3 separate regions of the Homo sapiens genome follow, and regions 2 and 3 are each linked to region 1. Evidence: fine-mapped expression QTL. A gene starts in region 1. Each other region holds a variant in brackets. All regions are shown on one strand. Distances are from middle to middle. Region 1 holds the start of CA5B (carbonic anhydrase 5B). Region 2 overlaps VEGFD (vascular endothelial growth factor D). Region 3 overlaps CA5B (carbonic anhydrase 5B).

What was found. PIP is the estimated chance that this variant, and not a neighbour inherited with it, causes the effect.
Region 2: its variant is fine-mapped to the expression of CA5B in spleen (GTEx, PIP 0.93).
Region 3: its variant is fine-mapped to the expression of CA5B in whole blood (TOPMed, PIP above 0.99). The same link has a PIP of 0.9 or more in blood mononuclear cells.

What each region holds. Positions count from the first base shown.
Region 1 is chrX:15,733,585-15,741,767 of GRCh38, forward strand. It overlaps CA5B (carbonic anhydrase 5B), which reads left to right and starts at 4,686. Exons shown (of 8, transcript NM_007220.4): 1 at 4,686-4,768. All of the region lies in intron 4 of CA5BP1-CA5B (CA5BP1-CA5B readthrough), which reads left to right. RefSeq lists a silencer at 4,351-4,650.
Region 2 is chrX:15,343,379-15,351,561 of GRCh38, forward strand. VEGFD (vascular endothelial growth factor D) reads right to left here. Exons shown (of 7, transcript NM_004469.5): 6 at 3,786-3,981; 7 at 2,218-2,881. The coding sequence ends at 2,755. It overlaps PIR-FIGF (PIR-FIGF readthrough), which reads right to left. Exons shown (of 15, transcript NR_037859.2): 14 at 3,786-3,981; 15 at 2,213-2,881. Among named protein-coding and RNA genes, the nearest start is that of PIGA, 12 kb to the left of the region's middle. The variant C/T (reference allele first, on the strand shown) is at 4,628.
Region 3 is chrX:15,770,800-15,778,982 of GRCh38, forward strand. CA5B (carbonic anhydrase 5B) reads left to right here. Exons shown (of 8, transcript NM_007220.4): 4 at 1,697-1,815; 5 at 3,503-3,598; 6 at 4,447-4,509; 7 at 5,915-6,070. CA5BP1-CA5B (CA5BP1-CA5B readthrough) reads left to right here. Exons shown (of 12, transcript NR_160544.1): 8 at 1,697-1,815; 9 at 3,503-3,598; 10 at 4,447-4,509; 11 at 5,915-6,070. Among named protein-coding and RNA genes, the nearest start is that of INE2, 13 kb to the right of the region's middle. The variant C/A (reference allele first, on the strand shown) is at 4,852.

The sequences.
Region 1 (8,183 bases):
ACATCCTAAATAACCACTGTGTTTAATGACATATCAGATTTTACATTCTAGTTCAAGCTTATCTCAGCTTGAACCAGAGTACCTAGCAGTTCATAGGCTAGCACTTGAGTAGCACTGCCTTCTATCATTTATAGTTTAGTTCCTGGCATATAACTAAGCAGTCACTGAACAGATAAAGGAATTAATGAATCATAAAATTATTCATTTAGCAATATTTAAAGGGTATTTGCTGATGCCCCAGGTACTGTGTTAACTGCCAGGAGTACAAAGTTGGGCAAATTGGTCAGAGTCCCTGCTCTTAGGGAATTTACATTATAGTAAACAACCAACCAACAAATAATCAAATAATTTCAAATACTGAGAAACACTATGAAGAAAATAAAATAGGTAATAGAGATGGAGAGGTGAAGCTGTTACTCAAAGTGTCTTTTTGTTTTGTTTTGTTTTGTTTTGTTTTGAGACGAAGTCTCGCTCTCACCCAGGCTGGAGTGCAATGGCGTGATCTCGGCTCACTGCAACCTCCGCCTCCTGGGTTCAAGTGATTCTCCTGCCTCATCTTCCTGAGTAGCTGAGATTACAGGTGCCCACCACCGCGCCTAGCTAATTTTTGTATTTTTAGTAGAGACAGTGTTTCGCCATGTTGGCCAGGCCAGTCTCGAACTCCTGACCTCAGGTGATCTGCCTGCCTCGGTCTCCCAAAGTGCTGGGATTATAGGCATGAGCCACCGTGCCAGCCTCAGAGTGTCTTATAGAACCTCAGGATTGCATCTCCTGGCAGCATGCTTGAAATCTAGAATCTCAAGTCACATCGCGGAACCACTGCATCAGAGTCTGCATTGTAACATGATCTTCGGGTGATCTCTGGGCACAGTGCAGATTGAGAGGCTCTGGATACAACTTCAGATATGGTTGTCAGGAAAAACATATCTAAAGAGGTGACATTTTAGCTAAGTACTGAATAATGAGAAAACTCCAGCCATGTAAAGATCCGAGTAAAGAGTGGTCCAAACAATGGGAACAACAAAAGAAAATGTTCAGAGACAGGAATGAACATGGGAAGACCAGTATAGGTGGATCAGAGTGAGAAAGGGACCTGGAACTCTCTACACTCTGGTATTTATCAAAAACCCTGTGGTGAGAAATTATTTATTTATTTATTTATTTTTGAGACGGAGTTTCGCTGTTGTTGCCCAGCCGGGAGTGCAATGGTGCAATCTCGGCTCACTGCAACCTCTGCCTCCCAGGTTCAAGCAATTCTCCTGCCTCAGCCTCCCTAGTAGCTGGGATTACAGGCATGTGCCACCATGCCTGGATAATCTTCTATTTTTCGTAGAGATGGGGTTTCTCCAGGTTGGTCAGGCTGGTCTCAAACTCCTGACCTCAGGTGATCTGCCCGCCTCAGCCTCCCAAAGTGCTGGGATTACAGGCATGAGCTGCTGCGCCTGGCCACGAGAATTGTTGATTTTGAGTGACTGCACAAAGTTCTGCATGCAAGACCTCTATTTCTACAAAGCAGAGGTACCAGGTAGGTTATTGCATGCAGCCACTTACCTATCCTGCACCCACAGCATTGTTAACTGAGTACAGAACTTTTTCTTTCTGAGCCTGGACAAAGCCCCCAAACTTCTCAACATAGTTATTCAGGCAGCTACTACAAATAGTTCAGAGTTAACATGTGAGTTGAAACCTATTTGCCATCCTGGGGAAAGATGATCTAAATGCTACCCTGGATTAAGCCAGACCATTGAGGGCTTGTGTATTCAAGTGAACAGAAATATGTTGATGGTTCATGGAATTTTTTTTTTTTTTGATACAGGGTCTCAGTCTGTTGCCCAGGCTGTAATGCCGTGGTGTGATCACGGCTCACTGCAGCCTCAGCCTCCCTAGGCTCAGATGATCCTCTCACTTCAGCCTCCCAAGTAGCTGGGACTACAAGCATACATCACCACACTCAGCTAATTTTGTAGAGATGGGGCTTCACCATGTTGTCCAGGCCGGTCTCTAACTCGTGGGCTCATGCAATCCTCCTGCCTCAGCCTCCCAAACTACTGGGATTACAGGCCTGAGCCACTATGCCTGGCCAATTCATAGAATTGATTTAATGCACTGTGCTTTGTGATTGTGCCAACAGTTTCCATTGAGGGGATTTGGGTGTCACTCCTTATGACACATAGTTCCCACTAGGCTCACTACATCATCTTTATGAGGAAACTGTATTTCTCTCAGGACTAAAATTCAAGAAAAACTGCTTCTATAAAAACAAAACAGCCGGGCACGGTGGCTCCCGCCTGTAATCCCAGCACTTTGGGAGGCTGAGGCAAGTGGATCACCTGAGGCCAGGAGTTCGAGACCAGCCTGGCCAGCATGGTGAAACCCCGTCTCTACTAAAAATACAAAAATTAGCTGGGCATGGTGGCGGGCGCCTGTAATCCCAGCTATTTGGGAGGCTGAGGCAGGAGAATCACTTGAACCCGGGAGGCAGAGGTTGCAGTGAGCCGAGATCATGCCATTGCACTCCAGCCTGGGCAACAAGAGTGAAATTCCATTAAAAAAAAAAAAAAAAAAAAAAAGGCCGGGTGCAGTGGCTCACACCTGTAATCCCAGCACTTTGGGAGGCCGAGGCGGGTGGATCACCTGAGGTCGGGAGTTCAAGACCAGCCTGACCAACATGGAGAAACCCCATCTCTACTAAAAATACAAAATTAGCCGGGCATGATGGTGCATGCCTGTAATTCCAGCTACTCAGGAGGCTGAGGCAGGAGAATCGCTTGAACCTGAGGGCCGAAGGTTGCAGTGAGCTGAGATCGCGCCATTGCACTCCAGCCTGGGCAACAAGTGCAAAACTCTGTCTCAAAAAAAAAAAAAAAAAAAAGGGAAAAGAAAAAAAGCCAGTTTTTATCTTATGAACAGTAAAAACCTAAAAATGATTGCTATTTCCTCTTTTCTATGGCTATTCAACAGCTTAGTTAGGGTCAAATTTCTGGCCTACTTCTGACAACTGTTCTGGATCTGATGGAGTGCAAACTTAAATGTTAATCTTATCATTGGCCACATCATTCTCCTTCCATTAAGCTCTCCTTTCACTGGTTCCTTCCCCTATTTTTAAATCTACTAATGTCTATATTTTAGGACGCTGCCTCAAATCATTTGTGGAAGAAGGTGAAGTAGAACTACTTGTATAAAAATAAACTCAGTAATTTATATAGACTGTATTTGGACCAATTTCTGTGAATTCATTTTTCAGGCAAAAAATGACTGACAGTTGAAACATTTTATAAATGAGGCAGAGTTCTCAGGGTCAGGGCGAGCATAATGAAAGTGTTCTGTTGAAAGTTGTTCTTTTCTCTGTGTTCCTTCTAGCCCAACATTTTGAATATTCTCACTGTCTTCAAGCCAGAAATGCAAGGGAGGAGAAGAAAAAAGAACTGTGTGATAGTAAAATCTTTATTGTTGGCATATGAAGCAATATAAGTAGCAAATTTTACTTCTACAAAGGGGGGAAATTATATATTTCTATACATGTGGAAGAGTAGATATTCAGTGAAGATTTTTTGATAATTTATTGTGTAAAGAAATGTACTAAATACTATAAAAGTGGCTTCCTATGTTTACTACCCCCAAATATTCCTACTAATGACCTGAGATTACCAACTCCTTTTCCACCTATTAACCTTTTGCCACATCTTCCCCAATTTTCTCATCCAAACCCAAGTTGGGGCAACTTCAGACTGTAAGCTTCTTGAGGCTTGTCTTGTTTGTCAGGGGAGCATGTACTCAATAAATGAAATTTGCATGAATGAGTCAGAGATTTATGTACACAGGGGAAGAAAGCTGGTTATAGCTTCTTCATATTTTTCACGTGGACCCAGAGTTGTAAATTGAGGGAAGAAGGATAGCAGAGTAATCTCAAAGCACAAAGTGGGGGTGATGTCTTCACACGCCCTCAGCAGCAACGGGGCACTGGGTGCTTAGGAAAGCCCATCTGAAGGAGACATCAGGAAGTAGAGGAATTCTGTTTTTTCCACTCATCTGCCTAGTATTTAAGGTCGGCTAAGAGGCTAGAAGGAACACATCCACAGTTCTGCTTTAGAGGATATGAAAATTGGGCTGGAAGGAACACGGGTCCACAGTTCGAGTTCAGAGGACATAAAAACTGGCTCAAAGAAACTCGGGTAAATTGGACATGAAAACTAGCGGGAAAGGACACGTTCAGTGTTTGTTTCCCTACTGAGTCACCTGTTCCCAGCACATAAAGTCGTGGTGTTTGGAGATGGGAGGAACCGAGGGAAAGTCACTTTTTAGATAAGGCTCTGAAGCCCCAGGTCTAGTTTCAATCCACTAATGCGGCCAGCGGCGAGCAGGAGGAGGGAGGATTGGTCCGGCGGGGGCGGGGCCAGAGCAGGGCTCAGAGGCGTGGCCCAGGCTAGAGGGAAGAGCCCAGGGGGAGCGCAGAGGCGGGGCTAGGAGGGAGCAGGGGTGAATGGGGGCGTGGCCCGGGCGAGAGGGGCGTGGCTGTAGCTAAAGGGGTGTGGCCAGGGTGGAGGGCAGAGACTGGCACAGTTTGGTTGGGCGTGACCGGGGCAATAAGTACGGACGTAGTGGGGCGTGGATCTGCCAGGTGGGGGCGTGGCCTCCATTGAGGGGCGTGGCCCTGGTATGTGGGGCGTAACAGGGCACGAGGGGGCGTAGCTTCGATGGCCGGACGTGCAGGCTGCGGATCCCCGTAGGCGAGCGAGCGGCTAGGTTCGTGATCTGGAGAGACGCTCAGGTAAGGACGGGTGGCCGAGAGGAGTGGGGGGCGACCAGGGACAGGCCGATCCAGACAGGGCCGTGATTCTTCCCACGACTCTCCGCTCTGGCGCACCGGGTTCCGGAGCTAGGAGAGCTGTTGATCCTGCGAGTATTGTCTGGGTCCCGGCAGGGCGCCCGGGAGTACTGAGTGGGGCCTAATGGGGTGTCGAACTCCCCCACCCCAGCCCTCTTCCTCCACTATGGGAGTTACCAAACGGCTGTCATCCTTTAAGGTTCTTTGCACAGGACGCGATAACAGCTGTTCCAGAGAAAAGGGGGTGGGGGCGCGGGAGAGCAGTTCCTTGGTAGGTAGGGTTGCCAAGGTTGGTTGAATCCAAATAACTCCAGAAAGTCCAGCCTTCTGTGAAATAGCTAGAGACGGGGGTAAGGGCGACAAATCTGAGGTTGCGGTTCCAGAAACCGAGGCTCAGTAAACTGGAACTCCCTCAGATCTGCATTGTATCCGCACCACCCACTATGCTAGGGGCTGTGGAGAGACTCACAGCCACTCACCCCCAAGACAGGGTATCAGCATCACAACTGTGCCATGCGGGCAAATCTGAGCTTTCTTCACCCTGCAGTTCTTTCTTCTGGCCTTTTTGTTTTGTGCTCAGCCCTAAAGCTGAAGGAGAGGAACCTCCAAATACAAACCTTGTTGGTTTTCGTGATTCTTGTGGCATTCAATGTTAAATGCTTCTGCCCCGAGGCTTGTGGCAATTGGTTAATATTGATGTCAGTGCCCTTCCCTCCTGTGTATTTTCGCTGGGAAAGTTTGAGAGATAAGGGGAGTTGATGTGTACAACTTAGTTTGAAAAGAACTTGTTCTCTCCTAGCCACTGAAAACCGCGTTGCTTTCTGCTTCCCATTCTTCCTTTACTGATAATCTGGCCATCACTCTGCTGTTTAAAAGTCTTGCTAGAGTATGGAGACAAGTAGTGCTATTTCTGTGGTGAGAGAAGCTGCCCCAGAGCATACCCTTGAATTGTCCCTGCACATCTCTCAGGAGTGGCCACTCTTCTTGGGTATGTTGGAAGTGGAAAACCGTAAAGCTTTCTAGGAATATTTTTTACTGAGGTTTTTTTTTTTTTTTAACCTCAGCATCAGGGTTGGAATTCACTGAAATGCCAAAAGCAGCAAGGGCACCGTTCTCTGTGCCTGTACACACCTGCCCTCTTCTCCCTGGAGCCAGGCAAAAAGCTGCAACCACTCACAATTGGAACGCAGTAAAGGTTGAGTGAATTGTGAGTGAATGAATGAATATGAATATTTGGGAAATTTGACGGAAAGGGGAAAATGCATTTCATCTGATTGGTGGCACTGGGCAATTAATTGCAGCACAAAGAGCAGTTATTAGAAACATATTCTGAAACCTTTGGCTACCACACATTGGGATCATGCTCCCAGGGAAGAAGTGGGTGAGAGGGGGAAGCTGAGCTTTCTCAGTCAAGATATCGCAGCATAATCTCTAATTTAGATTTCAGGGAATTGCAAAAAGGCTTGTTGCCTTTTGAAATCAGGTGGTGATCAAAGGAAGGGTCCATCTGTTGAAAATGAAGGAATTTTTTTCCAATGTAATTGTAACCTTTAGTCAGAGTACATTCTTTTTTTTCTGTCTGTTTTGCCTACATATGAATGGCTTAATCAGGCAGAGTTCAAGCTGCTTGTCATTTAATAAATACAAGATTTATGAATGACTCATTGAGGGCTTTCAAAATCTTTGTTTCCACGCATTTCTAAGTCTGGAAAACAGCTAAGGGGCAGGTTAGCAAAATCCAAGGATATACATAAATCATCAGTGATGGCAAAGAGTATATAACACAGAAAGCTCCCCTGTAGTCCATCGAGCCCAGGGACCCATCTTTATGGACAAACTTATGTACGGACAGATTCTCCCTGAAATACAGTAATGTATGGTATTAGTTGATATGTGCTGTGTTTGCTGGTTAAACATTATTTTTGGTTTCACAAACTTGGGTTTTATGAATGCAGTGAGTAAGTTTAAATAACCAACTCTTAAAAAACTATAACTTCTAATTTAACAGAGAGGATAGACCTTAGGCCTGAACAAAAATAACCTCATGTATTGTTATAGGTATTGCAATCAAGCATTAGCTAAATTGAATTTCTGTTTACTTGGATTTTCCTGGAACCTCCTCACCTGGATCTTCCAAGCTCTGCGCCTTCCTTGATTGCCTTTGACCGTTCTCAGTCTCAGCATCCTTCATGGCTCCTTTTTGTGAGTCTCCCTTGATATACCTGTAACTGCTGGGAGGAGGGGATTCTCTTTCTATCTGTAGCTTCCTGACTGCTCCTGAGCACCAGAGCTGTGTTGCCAACTCTCTCCTAGACCTTTCCTCTCAGCTATCCCATTGACACCTTAAATCCAATATGATTAGAGGGCTGGGCGCCATGGCTCACGCCTGTACGCCTGTAATCCCAGCACTTTGGGAGGCTGAGGCGGGTGGATCGTTTGAGGCCAGGAGTTCGAGACCAGCCTGGACAACATGGCGAAACCCCGTCTCTACCAAAAATACAAAAATTAGCTGGACGTGGTGGTACGCCTGTGGTCCCAGCTACTTGGGAGGCTGAGGTGGGATAATCACTTGAGCGTGGGAGGCGGAGGGTACAGTGAGCCAAGATCGTGCCACTGCACTCCAGCGTGGGTGACAGAGACCCCATCTCGTTCTGTTTTTCTTTTTCTTTTTTTTTTGAGACGGAGTCTCGCCCTGTCACCTAGGCTGGAGTGCAGCGGCACAATCTCGGCTCACTGCAACCTCCGCCTCCTGGGTTCAAGTGATTCTCCTGCCTCAGCCTCCCGAGTAGCTGGGCTTATAGGCTTGCACCACCATGCACGGCTAATTTTTGTACTTTTAGTGGAGATGGGGTTTTGCTATGTTGGCCAGGCTGGTCTGGGACTCCTGCCATCAAGTGATCCACCCTCCTCGGCCTCCTAAAGTGCTGGGATTACAGGCGTGAGCCTCTGCACCTGACCCGGAGACCCTGTCTCAAAAAAAAAAAAAAAAAAAAATCCCATTTGATTAGAGGTATGACCTGCCATCATCTTTCCCTTCCCTGTTTCTCATGACAGGTTTGTGGGGGATTTTGTTTGTTTGTTTTTTTTTGAGACAGTGTCTTGCTGTGTCGCCCAGGCTGGAGTGCAGTGGCACGATCTCAGCTCACTGCAACCTCTGCCTCCTGGGTTCAAGCAATTCTCTGCCTCAGCCTCCCGAGTACAGGCGCCCGCCACCACGCCTGGCTCATTTTTGTATTTTTAGACAAAAATCTCTAGACGAGGTTTCACCATCTTGGCCAGGCTGGTCTGGAACTCCTGACCTCTTGATCCACCCGCCTCGGCCTCCCAAAGTGCTGGGATTACAGATGTGAGCCACTGT
Region 2 (8,183 bases), 390 kb before region 1:
CCTCAAGGACCAGACCCATCCTGACCCAGCGTCAGGGATCCAAGTGCAGATCTTGATGGTAATTGGGAATTAAGGAGGAAGAAGAGGGAGGGGTTTTAGAAGCACAAAGCCAGATCACATTGAGTTTTGGCTTAGCTTAGAATTCCCTATGATAATCTCCATCTAAATGGCAATTATGAAGCCAGAGGCATTTCGAGCCAAAACATGGTTTGAGTTGGTTTTAGGACAGATCCAAGGATCCAGTATAAGCCAAGAACATCTCAGAGGTCCCAAGCTTCTGAGATTTGCTCAGTCTTGCTTTTTTCCTTCAGAATAATTCCTTTGAGCTATAAGGTACATTGTATTGTTCAATTTTTTTTTTTCACTAATCGTAACTCTAATGAAATTATCAATTCTGAGATTTAGGGAAATGAGATTATCATTTACATTTGACAGATGAGAAAACTGAGGCTCGATGACATTGTTCAGGCTTACAATGTGTTTAGGTGGCAGAGTCTGTCCTTAAATTCAGGTCTTTTCTCCTTAGTGATACATCCCCTCTTTTTACCAGTCGAGGATAAGCAAAGTAACTCCTTTAATTGTGTGGTATCCTTGAATTGTCTTCTGCCCCAGATCTCAAAGGAATTTAAGCAAATATCATGGAGAAGTTGGGAGTGGTAGAAACTGAACGAAAAGGCAAAGCAAAGAGTCGAATGCCAAGTATGTTTTAAAAAACTAAGTTATGTGCAAGCATTTTCAGAAGCCTGATTAAAAATACAGTAAAATGAGAAGGAAGAAGCCTGTTGACATCAAGGTCATAAAGTGAGGGCAAAAAGAACAGTGGCAAAAGAGGAGTGACTGGGTTGGCACCAGTAAATGACAAGAGCAATGACAATGGCAGCACAGTGGGGAGTGGTTCCAAGGCCAGGTGAAGGTTAGCTCATGTCCCCAGGGCAGGGACTGAGAGTTAAAGCCAGGGAAGCATCAAAGGACCTGGAGCCCCAGGCTTCAGAGAATTTCAGTGAATGAAGGGAGAATTCAGGAACTGCTTAGAAACCCTGGCAGAGGAAGGGTAGGGATTTGGGCCAGGATCAAACAATGCCACTACCATGGGGCTACATTTGTTTACTATTCCATTGTTTATCATTGTCTTTCTCCTTTTGATTGTACTGTTCCAGGGTGTTCTGGCCTGAGAAAGTTGGGTTACACAAATTTGATCAGGACACCGTTTCCAATCATAATGAGGTCACAGTATGGTGGGGAGATAAACAGGAACACTACTATTTACACAAATGTGTTGTAAGTACCATAATGGGTTGTGTGTGTCTATATACATATCTATCTATGCAAGATACTATGCAGGGATTAATTTTAAGTTATTTAATACATAACTTAAATCTGCTAATGCTGCTAAATTCTCTCTGTTATGGCAAAATTTCAATAAAGTCTACATCATTAACAAATTAGATGTAGGAGTACTTTGAGGAAAAAGGCTTTATGTGGCCGGGCGCGCTGGCTCATGCCTGTAATCCTAGCACTTTGGGAGGCTGAGGAGGGTGGATCACAAGGTCAAGAGCTTGAGACCATCCTGGCCAACACGGTGAAACCCCGTCTCTACTAAAAATACAAAAATTAGCTGGGCGTGGTGGTGTGCATCTGTAGACCCAGCTACTCGGGAGGCTGAGGCAGGAGAATCACTTGAACCTGGGAGGCAGAGGTTGCAGTGAGCCAAGATCGCACCACTGCACTCCAGCCTGGCGACAGAGTGAGACTCCGTCTAAAAAAAAAACAAAACAAAAAACAAAACAAAACAAAACAAAAAGTGATAGCTGTAGAACAGAGAGAAGAACTGTGTTGCCATGAGAGTTGGGGTGTCCATGACACTGAGATTTGAGTAAGTGCAGAAACTTGGAGCCAGAGGTGGCTAGAAGAAATGCAAACTCTCAAAGAGGTCAAGGGCATGGATGGGTTCCCCTCTGCCATGGGATGGGGATCAGGTCAAGTTCAATTTAATCTCAAGGCACAGAGTGATTCGCAGTGGATTCTTGGGTCACATTTGCTTAGCCTCATTTAGGATCTTAACCTTTCTGAGAGCTATTCCCTTGGTTTCCCAAAACTGAGGTCCAGTGTTTGTGTCTCTTCCTGCACCTTCCACTTTGAAATTCCTTTCTTTCTTTAAAACACTTTTTCTTTAGCATAAATATAGAGTGGAAGCATATTAAATAACATAAAATTATATGGCTTGAATAATGGTGTTTATTTTCTTTAAATACACTTAAATATGAAACATCAGATGGTAGTTCATTAAACTGGAAGACTATAAGCTGGACAGTAATCAGAAAGTCAGTACTGATCATACGAATCAAATTCTGCATAAAAAAGAATCAGAATAATTCACAAGAGTTGCGATTAGCAAAGGACTCAGAGACTACAGTTTTCCTCATCTGCTCTGAGTAATCAGTCATATGACACCTGCCATTCCATGACCAGCACACCTTTCTCATTCACCAAAAAACAAAAACAAAACTAAACAAAAGGATTACATGGGTCCCCTCCTCTCCATTCCTTGGTGCGCAGAGGCATCTGCAGCTAGAAGACATCCATCAATGAACCAGGGACTCCTTAGCTGGTGTGAATGGAAGGTTGGTCTGGATTCACTGTGGTGCTGTGTAAAATGGATTTTTTTTTTAACACCTGGGAAAAAAACAGTGACAGCAACTTGGCAAAGCAGCATGCTGTTAAAAATGACAGGGATGGGGAACTTGGAACGCTGAATCAAGGATTCTTTCGGCTGTGGGGCCCCTGGGCAGCCCTTTTCTCCTTTGGAAAGCGGCAATGCTTTGCACATGCTGTTTTGCCACTTGCACATGGTCTGGTATGAAAGGGGCATCTGTCCTCACAGCTGTTGCAAAAGAAAATAAAGATGAGAATTCAGAATCAATGACTGGATTCAAAAGAATAACTCTGCTCTGATTTGATTAAGTTTTCCAGACATGTATTTAAAATGTCAGTATAAAATCCTGCATGGTTATCCCACATGGATTCAAAATCTACTGAAGTGAATCAGTAACCTCCAAGTGTTCTATTCATGAATAAATTACTTGCTATATAAATCCAATGATATTCCCTCCATTAAAGAAAAAAACAAACATATATAGACATAAACAATGAGAGATTGAACTAAACAGGTTGATGATCTGAAACCTCCCCTTCCTAAAATATTATTATTAAGCAATATCCTAATAACTGCTTAAATTTTACCAATTTCATTGTTGTTTAAGAGCTCTAAACCCCGGGTGGGCGCGGTGGCTCATGCCTGTAATCCCAGCACTTTGGGAGGCCGAGACGGGTGGATCATGAGGTCAGGAGATCAAGACTATCCTGGCCAACATGGTGAAACCCCGTCTCTACTGAAATACAAAAATTAGCTGGGTGTGGTGGCACGTGCCTGTAATCCCAGCTACTTGGGAGGCTGAGGCAGGAGACTCCCTTGAACCAGAGAGACGGAGGTTGCAGTGAGCCCAGATCACGCCACTGCACTCCAGCCTGGAGACAGAGCGAGACTCCGTCTAAAAAAAAAAAGCTCTACACACATAATAACAGGCAGGATTGATTTTCTTATTTTCATGATTAATCATGACTCGGTATACTCTTGCTTATTCCTTAGCTGCTAAACCTCTGTTCTATTATCCAAAAGGGACTCAGGCACCAAGGGGAAAAATTAGCTTACTAAGGAATCCCACCAAATTAAAATGGCATCTACGTTAAATGTCATGAGTAAAGGCAAGACAACTCAAGGCATTTACCTGCAGGTGTCTGGGTGAAATAGCTTGTGCTTCTGGCAGCAGGTCTCCAGACTTTCTTTGCACTCAAAGCAACTGCAGTTTTTGGGGTGCTGGATTAGATCTTTGGGACATGGTGTTTTACAGACACACTCGCAACGATCTTCGTCAAACATCATGTGTGGCCCACAGAGAGCTGGTTCCTGGAGATGAGAGTGGTCTAAAGAGAAACAGAAACGTGTTGGTCAGATAGTTGTAGTGTGGCAATTGGATCACCAAAGTTGATTGTATCTTTTATGTCATCCGTAAGTAACTTGGATTCACCCAATCTCCTTCCTATAGATTTATGCCCCTAATTTTTTCACAGGGTGAGGAAGATTAACCTCTGATTTCACAATACAAACACAGGTTTGTGTGTTTTCTTAGGTTTGTGATTTTTAAAATATCATAAGCTGAATATTTTTCATAAAATATTTTTAGAGATTTTTATGTTGATGACTTGTTTAGAATGCAAACTTCCACAACCAAGTATTAGTAATAAAATATAGGATGTCTAAGGGTTATGAATCTAGCTGTCTCCATTTTTTGGTGGAGATTAAAAGGAGAGACACACAAAATAATTGGTGTTGTAGAAATACACCTCAGACATTCCAGGCCAGGCGTAGCAATAGCAATGCATGTCCTCACTGCAGATCATAACACTAGTATAAAAGATATAGGAGTAATAATGAACTTTGATTCCACCAACATCTGCTGGAAGATACATTCAAGTAAAGGGGAGGGTCTGAGAAGTTTTTGACATACTCATCTGACAAATATTTCTTCTAGAAGGTGTATAAAACAATTGAATAGCTACTACTCCAAAT[C/T]CATTTCTGATTAACAAGTTGAAATTCATTGCAAAATAAATGGAAGAGACAGAAACTTTGGAAGAACTTGACTCTGTCCCTTTAGCATTCTTGAAGGTTTTGGAGGGACGTACATGTTTAGTAGTTTTCTCCCCAAATCTGCTTCTCTCCCAGTTTGCCTCATTTAGGGAATGGTGACATCATTCTTGACTCACCTGCTCTGGTAAGTCTGAGCATCATGTCCACTCAGTTCTGCCTCTCTAAATTTGTTCTTTATTTTCCATCCCCACTACCACTCCCACAATTCAGTCTGTACCTTGTGTTTCTTTTGTAGATGGCTGTCGCTCTGTCACTCATCTCACCACCACAAGTTTTATCCCTCCAACCTATTCTTCTTCACATGATTAACAAATGCAAACCAAATCACTTCATTCCACTGCTTTGAATGCATTAAAAGGTTCCCTTCCCACAATAAAAACCAATTTTCCCACCAGGACATACAAGGCCCTCCATGAACTGGATCATAGTAACCTCACAGACTCATCTTCTGTTTCTTGCTTTCATATATCCTGTGTGTTCCATTTATACCAAATGACAGCACTTTCTGTTGCCCTGATATTCCAGTGCCTCCCAGTCCCATGCCTTTGGCCTTGTCTTTCCTTCTGCCATCCCTTTTCCCTGACATCTTTCCCAATGTCTGCAGGTTTAGCTAAGTGTCCTTATCCTGTGCATATTGCTGTCCGATTCTTTCTTGCACTGATTACATTTGTCTGTTTACTTGTATGTTTCCCCCATTAAGTAAAATGTCCTGAAGGAGAAGGAGCAGGTCTCATTGTTCTGATATAAAATAGGCACTCGATGGATGTTTGTTGGGTTTATTTGGTGTAATAAAAGGGTCCTGAAGCAGGCCGATGTATGGAGCTTCTGGGAATCCCATCCAGCATTCCAAGCCATTGGGTTAAACCATATGTTCTTGCCAATATCTGACTTTAATGACATATCAAAATGAGAATCTCGTGCGGTTCAACTTTATAGTTTAAACTTTTCTGTAATGCACGACGTTTGAGAATGGGTGCTGGAAGGCTAAATCTGAGAAGTCTCCATTTTGAACTTTGTGGAGAGGGAAAATGTGAGCTCTGTAAGTCATATGCCAGTGAGGCAGATGCCGCTTTGGGGTAAGACAAGAGTAACTTGTTAAAGGATAAAGAGGCTTTTTAAAAATTCGCAATGATCACTAGGTGGCAGCAGAAGTTCACTAAGAATACTTCAGACAGGCCCAAGGCCATTGTTGGACAGGGTTGTTCAGGGAAACACAATCCACAAGGTGTTTGCAGAACTTCAGCAGGCTGTTTGGCAGAGTCTGTGCTCACATCCTTATAGCCAAGTTAAAAGAAACAAAAACTGGATGCAAGAGAACTGGTGGTGGAACAGCAAGTAGCTGAGGGTGATATCTTGAAGTATTATGTATTGATTTCCGTCCCTAGAGAGTCTGATGATATGTTCTGTTCTCAGCTTTGTTCCTTTTACCATTTTTATCAATAAACTGATAGAATTTTTTCAAAATAAATTCTTGAAATTGTAGCTCTCTTCAAGAAGGAAGGGATATATTAAGTATTTTAAAATACAGAATTGGGACCTCCTCAATTTATTCTTTTGTGTGTGTGTGTGTTTGTGTATATCGTTTGTTTTAACAATTTAGAGCAATGACCTGACTCTAACAAGACTCAATTAAATTAGACTTGGATTCACTAACCTAAATGTGCTCATCTGGGCAAGAGAAGTCACTGTAGAAAAGGCAGTTGGCTTAACAGTCACATGTGCGGAAAAAAAGTATAGTGAGCAGTAAGCTCAGTAAATCCCATCAATTTGATGGGGCCACTGGAGAAATGAATGTGAACTTGATCCACATTGGGGACTTATAGGAGATGAGAATGAGAAACAATTGTGATCCAGTCCACCCTGCGCCTCTCACTTACATCATTGCTACAACTTCCCAAAAGGTTTCCTGCCTCCTTCCCTGCCCCGAGTCAACACATCCTCTTCTACACTGTTGCTGATATGATTTTGTTAAAATTCTAATGGGTACTGTCACTCTCCTGCTTTAGCCAGTTGTGTGGTTTCCCTTTGTCCTTAGTATCACATCCAAGCTCCCATGCAAGAATTACAAGGTCCTTCTGCTTTGCCCCTGTGAGCCTGTCCAGCTTCTTCTCTCACATCTAACCAGCCCCTTCCCCATTATGTCCCCACCCATTATATCCCCACCATGCTGAACTTCTTCCAGTATGTTCTCTCACCTCCAGCCCTGAGTGCTCATATACCCGCTGCTTAGAACAGCACTTCTCTTCTTCCCTATTCTTCTTACCACCCTCTACACACGTGTACTGGCTGAGTGCCTTCCCAAGAATTATCTCCAGCAGAAATAAGCTGCCTCTCCTAAGGCTACATCCCCTCTCCAAGGCAGCCAATGAACGGTCTACAGGGCTCAGCCTCTTCACCTAGATTTAAGACTTACCCCCGCAGGGGTTCCCAGCTTCAACTTCCCATTGGCTTAGGCTGATGCCTCTTAGCAACTGCGCTGTGGTCTGCTGCCTCTCTCTTTACCCTTTAATGCCTTGTGCCTGCCTACAAACCTCCTCCGTACAAAACTGTCTCAGAGGCTTTGTGCCAGGAAATCCTCAGCTAGAGCCTTTAAGCTCTAAGTATATTGCCCTTCCCACAGTAACTTACTTTCTTTCTCTTTCTTTCTTTCTATCCTTCCTTCCTTCCTTTCTTTTTCTTTCTTTTCTTTCTTTCTTTCTCTCTCTTTCTTTTCTTTTCTTTCTTTCTTTCTCTCTCTCTCTCTTTCTTTTCTTTTCTTTTTCTCTTTCTCTCTTTCTTTCTTTCTTTCTTTTTTTGGAGGCAGAGTCTCACTCTGTCATCCAGGCCCGAGTGCGGTGGCATGACCTCGGCTCACTGCAACCTCTGCCTCCCAGGTTCAAGAGATTCTCATGCCTCAGCCTCCTGAGTAGCTGGGACTACAGGCGCACATCACCATGCCCAGCTATTTTTTTTTTTTTTTTTTTTTTTTTTTTTTTTTTTTTAGTAGTAGTAGAGATGGGATTTCGCCATGTTGGCCCGGCTGGTTTTCTTTTTTTTTTTTTTCTTTTTTTGAGACGGAGTCTCGCTCTGTTGCCCAGGCTGGAGTGCAGTGGCGGGATCTCGGCTCACTGCAAGCTCCGCCTCCCGGGTTCACGCCATTCTCCTGCCTCAGCCTCCCAAGTAGCTGGGACTACAGGCGCCCGCCACTACGCCCGGCTAATTTTTTTTTTGTATTTTTAGTAGAGACGGGGTTTCACCGTTTTAGCCAGGATGGTCTCAATCTCCTGACCTCGTGATCCGCCCGCCTCGGCCTCCCAAAGTGCTGGGACTACAGGCGTGAGCCACCGCGCCCGGCCGGCCCGGCTGGTTTTCAAACTCCCAACCTCAAGTGATCCTCCCATCTCGGCCTCCCAAAGTGCTAGGATTACAGGCATGAGCCACCATTCCCGGCCAACCCCACAAAAATTTTCTAACACTTTTAGAACATGAGTCACATGGA
Region 3 (8,183 bases), 37 kb after region 1:
CTCTGTTGCCCAGGCTGGAGTGCAGTGGCGTGATCTTGGCTCACTGCAAGCTCCATCTCCCAGGTTCACACCATTCTCCTGCGTCAGCCTCCCGAGGAGCTGGGACTACAGGCACCCGCCACCATGCCCAGCTAATTTTTTTTTATTTTTAGCAGAGACGGGGTTTCACCATGTTAGCCAGGATGGTCTTGATCTCCTGACCTCATGATCCGCCCGCCTCAGCCTCCCAAAGTGCTAGGATTACAGGCATGAGCCACCGTGCCCGGCCAAAAACATCTTATCTGGGCCAGCCGCAGTGGCTCAACTGCCTGTAATCCCAGCACTTTGGGAGGCTGAGATGGGTGGATCTCTTGAGCTCAGGAGTTCAAGACAAGCCTGAGCAACATGACAAAACCTCATCTCTACAAAAAAAAAAAAAAAAAAAAGCCTGGCATGGTGATGCACGTCTGTAGTCCCAACTACTCAGGAGACTGAGGTAGGAGGATGGCTTGAGCCCAGGAGGCAGAGGTTGCAGTGAGCCGACATTGTGCCACTGCACTCCAGCTTGGGCGACAGACTAAGACCCTGTTTCAAAAAAAAAAAAACACTTGTCAATATTTTGCCTATAATATATTGGTAATAATTTGTGTGTGTGTGTGTGTGTTTGCGACAGAGTCTCGGTCTGTCACTCAGGCTGGAGTGCAGTGGCACGATCTCAGCTCACCGCAACCTCCGCCTCCTGGGTTCAAGTGATTCTTGTGCCTCAGCCACCTGAGTAGCTGGGACTACAGGCATGGGCCACCACGCCCAGCTAATTTTTTTTTTTTTTTTTAATTTTTAGTAGACATGGGGTTTCACCATGTTGGCCAGGCTGATCTCAAATTCCTGACCTCAGATGAGCCACCCGCTTCAGCCTCCCAAAGTGTTGGGATTACAGGTGTGAGCCACCAGGCCCGGCCAGTGTGTTTTTTCAATTGACATATTTGTATACATTTACCAGGTACAATGTAATCTTTTGATATATGTATGCATTGTGGAATGATTATATCAAGCAATGAAAATATCCATCACCTCACATGCTTACCATTTTTTTTTTTGTAGCGAGAAAATCTACTGTTACTCTTTTAGTAATTTTGAAATGTGCAATAGATTATTATCAACTATGGTCACCATGCTGTGCAATAAATCTTGAAAACATATTCTTCCTAACTGAAACTTTGTACCTTTTGACCAACATCTCCCAGGTGATCATTTTTGACTTGCAAATGTCCTATTCCATTTCAATGAAAGGGAAAGCAACACTAGTATCTTCAAAACTTGAAAAGCAAAGTGTCTGTGCATAAAAAAAGAAAGATCCTTTTATCCCCATATTTCAGTATTATAAAGTCATGTTGGATAAATGTGCTGAGAGAAATTTGCATTTTATTGCACACAAAAGAAAACTGGACACAATAATATAGGATATAAAATTAAGTCAAGAGTTGGCCTTTAACAATTGTTTGTAGCTTGTTATGTAGTTAAATCTTGATGTTATTTGGTCTTGTCCTTATACGTGCATTGACTTCATGAAAATCAAATTTATAATCACTTGTATATAATTCAGTGTAATCCATTTAAGACAGTTCACATGGAGGGTCCATTGGAGATTTGGCCTTTCACCCACATTCCTCCACTGCACAAATAACTCTTCCCTGAATTGTTGGATGTGCCATTTTAGTGATCAAGGGAGGACCCCTGGAACACAACTACCGATTGAAGCAGTTCCATTTTCACTGGGGGGCCATCGATGCCTGGGGTTCTGAGCACACCGTGGACAGCAAATGCTTCCCAGCAGAGGTATGTTGAGAAGGTCAGGAACAGTGACAACTGTAGAGAAGTGGGGATAATTCTGAACTTTTAGTTGTAAGACATTATTAGAATCAGGTGATTCCTATAAATGCTAAATAGCTTTCTCAGGCAGTTTTGATCATTCTCAGCTAAGACATGTAAAAATGTTAACTTCTCTCATCTCAAATAATATAGTTGAAATGAACCTTAAGATCCTGAAACTGAATTCTTCTGGAATTCGAAAGTGGACTCAAATAGTAGCCCAAAGTAATAACCCAGGGAACATTGTGGAGCCACAGGTTGAATTAATGCAAGTTTGCGGTGGTGGGAGCCTAAATGAAGGCTGTGGCAATAGAAATAGAGAAAAAGGGCAAGATTTATCAAGCATTTCTGAAATTAAAGCAACAGGACTTGAAGGTAGGGTTCTCTTCAGGATAGGAGAAGGCAAGGTTAACCACGACTTTGTGGTGTCTCACTTGGGAGGCTGGGTGATAATGCACTCATAACTGATGAATGAGGAATGATTTGTAGGGAAATAAAGGGAGATTTTAAGGAAATAGAATTTCTTCTTACAACTTTTTTCCTAATTCAATTGTAAATGTTATGTAAAAAAAGCCCATTTAAAAATTTATTTTATATTTTTTATATTTGTTTCATTTTATTTTGCTTTGTGAGACAGGGTCTCACTCTGTCACCCAGGCTGGAGTGCAGTGGCACAATCACGGTTCACTGCAGCCTCGACCTTAAGCAATCCTCCCACCTCAAGACAACAGGCGCACATCACCATGCCCTGCTAATTTTTTTTTTTTTTTTTTTTTTTTTGGGACAGAGTTTTGCTCTGTCGCCCAGGCTGGAGTGCAGTGGCGTGATCTTGGCTCACTGCAAGCTCTGCCTCCCGGGTTCACACCATTCTCCTGTCTCAGCCCCCCAAGTAGCTGGGACTACAAGCGCCCACCACTGCGCCCAGCTAATTTTTTGTATTTTTAGTAGAGATGGAGTTTCACCGTGTTAGCCAGGATGGTCTCGATCTCCTGACCTTGTGATCCACCCACCTCGGCCTCCCAAAGTGCTGGGATTACAGGCGTGAGCCACCGCGCCCGGCCTGCCCTGCTAATTTTTAAATTTTTTTGTAGAGACAAGGTTTCACTATGTCGTCCAGGCTGGTCTCATACTGCTGGATTCAAGTGATTCTCCCACCTTGACCTCCCAAAATGCTGAGATTACAGGTGTGAGCCACCACACCCAGCCTAAAAGCACATTTTAAATGGTTATTCCTTGAAGAAGAAATTTGTCTTTAACTCCTGCATAATTTCCATATGGAGGATCTATTTCTCTCAATATAAACATCTTCTCTCCTGTAGATGCAAGTGGATTTCGAATATTGGTATTTCATTCAAATCAAGATGGGACTGGACAAATGTTGATTGCTCACTGAAGTGTCACTTTGTTATATGAATTTTCTATTTTTCTCCCCAAATAAATCCCTTTATTCTAAAATAATATTAATTGCTGCTCTTGCCTAAATTTCTTCCTGATCTTTGTTTCTATCTCATTTTGGATTGTCATATGGTTTTCTTGGTGGCTTTACTTTGGGTGAGGAAACATGTTTAAATGTCATAGGTTGACTGAGGCTGTGGGTTTATTCTGGAGAGATTCTGTATAGTCACGTGTTAACCCTCTTTTCATGGTGTTTCAGCTGCACTTAGTGCATTGGAACGCAGTCAGATTTGAAAACTTTGAGGATGCAGCACTGGAAGAAAATGGTTTGGCTGTGATAGGAGTATTTTTAAAGGTAAAATATCTCACCAACTTTAAATGACGTGTTGTATTCTAGGATGAAAAGATAGAACAGTATAATATTGTTATTTACTTTAAGAATGTTGGGATCCATACATTGGTAAGATAAATAGTGCTTGAAGTACAGGATTGTTAAGAATATATTTTAGGGCCAGGCATGGTGGCTCACGCCTGTAATCCCAGCACTTTGGGAGGCCGAGGCAGGCAGATCACTTGAGGTCAGGAGTTCGAGACCAGCCTGGCTTCCATGGGGAAACCCTGTTTCTACTAAAAATACAAAAATTAGCCAGGCATAGTGGTGCGCACCTGTAATCCTAGCTACTCGGGAGGCTGAGGCAGGAGGATCGCTTGCTTGAGCCTGGGAGGTGGAGGCTGCAGTAAGCCAAGATTGTGCCACTGCACTCCAGCCTGGGCAACAGAGCGAGACTCCATCCCCCCCACCACCAAAAAAATATATATATTTTAAATGATATAAAAATGCACAGCCCAATAGAGTGGTCACAAGCCACATGTGGCAATTGAGCACTTGAAATGTGTCTACTGCAGTTCTGGAACCATTTTTCATTTTATTTAATTTTAATTTCAATTTAAGAACTTAAATGAAGCAGGGGGCACCTTTCACTGCAGGCATGCTGACCTTGTCAGCAAACAGCCTGCTGATTTGTTCTCTAATTTAATTCAGTAATGTTTATAAAATTATAAATTACAAGTTTAAGTGTAATTTCAGTCATGCAGTTTGTTTTTATGTAATCACCAGGTAGTTAATTTTAATTCACATTCTGTTACAGTTTCTACAGTGAGATGTCCATTGTTTGTAATATTTTCTTACTTGTTGTTCTTTAGCTAGGCAAACATCATAAGGAGCTACAGAAATTAGTGGATACTTTGCCGTCAATTAAGCATAAGGTACTATTTGTTTTCCTTAATTACTTGAAATATACTTTTATGTTTCAATCTCAGAGCGGAGACATTACCAAGGCACTTTGAATTGGGAAGTTTAATTAGGTGAACTGTATTCAGCCTTAGAAGAAAACTTGCCATTTATGATTCCAGGGGACAGAAGTCATCATTCTGTGGGTAGGCAGTGAGCTTTCTGGTTTTGCTGCAGTGCCGCTGAGGACTTGGGGACTCAGGAACATATTGCTGTCCCCTCCTCTGTTCCTGACACCGGCTCCTTCTAAGTCCTTGTGAACACACCCAGAGCAGCCTTCTGTTCTGTAGCTGCCATCCCACAGGCAGGGAGCAGAG[C/A]GCAGTTCTACAGAAACTTGCCTTGTCCAGCTAGAAAGAACAGTAATCCACATCCTTCAGGTCGGATGCCTTTGTCCAGTCCCCCAATATTAATTCTTCAATATTCAGAATCTCAAAGGGCTGCTCTCTGGAGGCCCATATATTCTCTTCTTCTCCCTCTCATCCCCCACTGTATCCCTCTGGTCCCCACCTCTTTCCCTCTCCTTTCCTCTCTGGAAGCCCGTATATTATCTCCCCCCATCCCCCACTCTGACCTTCTGGTCCCTACCTCTTTCCCTCTCCTCTCATCTCCATTTTCCTGTTTTTCCCTCTCTTTCCTTTTAGTTCAGGTTTCTGGCTCCTCCTGAGCTGCATTTCTTCTTAAAAGGACAATTCTCAGTTAGCCTCTCGAAAATGCAAAGCCTCCAACCGGGCGCAGTGGCTCACGCCTGTAATCACAGCACTTTGGGAGGCCGAGGCTGGCGGATCACGAGGTCAGGAGATCGAGACTGTCCTGGCTAACACAGTGAAACCCCATCTCTCCTAAAAAATACAAAAAATTCGCCGGGCATGGTGGCGGGCGCCTGTAGTCCCAGCTACTTGGGAGGCTGAGGCAGGAGAATGGCGTGAACCCGGGAGGCGGAGCTTGCAGTGAGCCGAGATTGCACCACTGCACTCTAGCCTGGGCGACAGAGCGAGACTCTGTCTCAAAAAAAAAAAAAAAAAAAGAAAAAAGAAAAGAAAATGCAAAGCCTCTTTCTTTATGCACTGGCCGCTGTCTAAAACCTCTCAACAAAACTCAGAGGAGACTACCTGCTGGAACCTCACTAGAATTGAGAGATCAAGTGGTTTTGGCCGTTTTCCCACAGGGGAATATAAAAAATGCACAGTTAATTCCAGAAACAAAGCCAGGCATGATACCATCCTAAGCAGCGATTCTTCAGGTAGCTGCCCAGAAAGGCCTGGAGCTGCTCTGGACCACTGCTGATCTCCAGATACTCCCTGAGAACCGTCACCTCGGCGTCCAATTCCTGAGTGGTTTTCACTACTAAATAATGACTCGGTTATCTCTTCTCTTGGCCAGGACGCCCTTGTGGAATTTGGGTCATTTGACCCTTCCTGCCTGATGCCTACCTGCCCAGATTACTGGACCTACTCAGGGTCTCTGACTACCCCACCCCTCTCCGAGTCTGTCACCTGGATCATTAAGAAGCAACCAGTAGAGGTTGATCATGATCAGGTATGTTCTCTCCATAATTTCAATCTAAGGAAATCCTTGTCTGCCCATGTAAAACAAGGCTGGGCTCAGACTGTGGCATCAGTTTTAACATCTTGTAATGCTTATACATTTTTATTGAAGTGTACCAACGTCTTGTCTCAGTTTGGACATGAATTTGGGGATGTTTCAAATTAACTAGAGAGAAGAGTTAAAACACAGAAGAACATAAGTTTTTTACATTTATATTTGACAATTACATATGTCTTCTTATGCCTTGTGTATTTTATATATAAATATTAAACTCTATACAAAATCAAGACCCTTTTAAAGGGAAGAGTGAAGGCTGGAAATGAATGTGTTCAAAACTGTTTAAAATCCTTAAGGGAATTCTGCTATGGAATCTCAGGATAAATACAGAATTCAACAATGTTTGTCCAGAAACTTTAATGTAAGTCCATTTTTTGAATTTGGGATCTATTTTTCCCTTAGAAACTAAGTCTAAGTAGTATTTACTATGCAAACACTCAAAATCCTGTATAATGTATAATATAAACTACAATAATATTTACTCATACTTGTTTTATGGGATTTTTATTGATTATAAAGCATTTTCATAAGAAAAAAAGCTTCCAAATTCTTTTTATGAAGCCAGCATAACTGATACCAACACTCACCAAAGATTGGACCCCCCTCTGAAGAATATAAAAGAAAAAAAAGCTAAAAAGAAAATATTAGAAACAGAATCCAGCAGTACATCAGAAGAAATATACACTTTGTCCAAGTAGCTTTTACTCCAGTAATACAAGTATGGTTCATGTTAAGAATGATATTAATGTAATTCATTCTATCAGTGGATCTAAATAGAAAAATCATATTATCATTTCCAGGGAAGTTAAAAAGACATTTGTAAAAATCACCATTCAGTTTTTGAAAATTTTTAATAAAACAGAGCTGAATAGAGACTTCCCTATCTTGATAAAAGAGATTGATCTCAGTTCAAAAGCAAATAGTAGGTTTTGAATGGAAAGGATTGTTACCGTATTAAGTTTTATATTAAATTACATTCTGGAAGTAGCCAGTACAGTTAGACTGGAAAATAAAAAATAAATTAGAGAAACAATAAAAAACGACTACAAAAATCAGAGATAATTTGGTAATCAGTGGAATACAATATCAATTTCTAGAAATCAATACATTTGACATATATAAATCACAATCAGCTAAAAGATATGATATAAAGATATAATGTAAGAAAGGCTCCTATTTATAATGGAAACAAAAATATAAAATACTTCGGAATAATTTTAACAAGGAAAGCTAATAAGAAAACTTAAAATGTTCCTGGAGGATACAAAAGAAGGCTTGAATTAATAAAGTTAACACATTATAGGATCAAAAGACATAAAAACACCTTTTTTTGTCATAAATGACAACCTAAGTTGTCATTCTCCATGAATTATTTATTCACCATAAATTTATGTATTCCCAATAAATATGCCAATAGGATTTTTAAATTGATATGCTATTTCTAAACTCATGAATAAAGACAAACACATAAATAGCCAGGGAAAATTCTAGAAAAATACGGGATAATTAGACTCACAAAGTTATAAAGCCTCAATAATTAAATAGCGTGTTCCTGGCACATGGATAAAGAGATCAATCAAGGGAAGTATATTAGCGTTCTCCAGAGAAACAGAACCAATAGGATATATATTGTATTAGTCCATTTTCACACTCCTATAAAGAACTACCTGAAACTGGGTAATTTATGAAGAAAGGAGGTTTAATTGACTCATAGTTCCACAGGCTTAACAGGAAGCATGACTGGGAGGCCTCAGGAAACTTAAAATCATGGCAGAAGGCAAAAGGGAAGCAAGGACCTTCTTCACATGGTGGCAGAAGAGAGAGAGAGAGATGGGGGAAGTGCCACACACTTTTAAACCGTCAGATCTCATGAGAACTCTTTCACTATCACGAGAACAGTAAGGAGGAAATCCACCCTCATGATCCCCTCCCCTGACACAGGGGGATTACAATTCGACGTGAGATTTGGGTAGGGACACAGGGCCAAACCACACCAGATATAGATAAAGATAAAAAAAATTAAGAAAGACAAAGTTAGATAAATAAC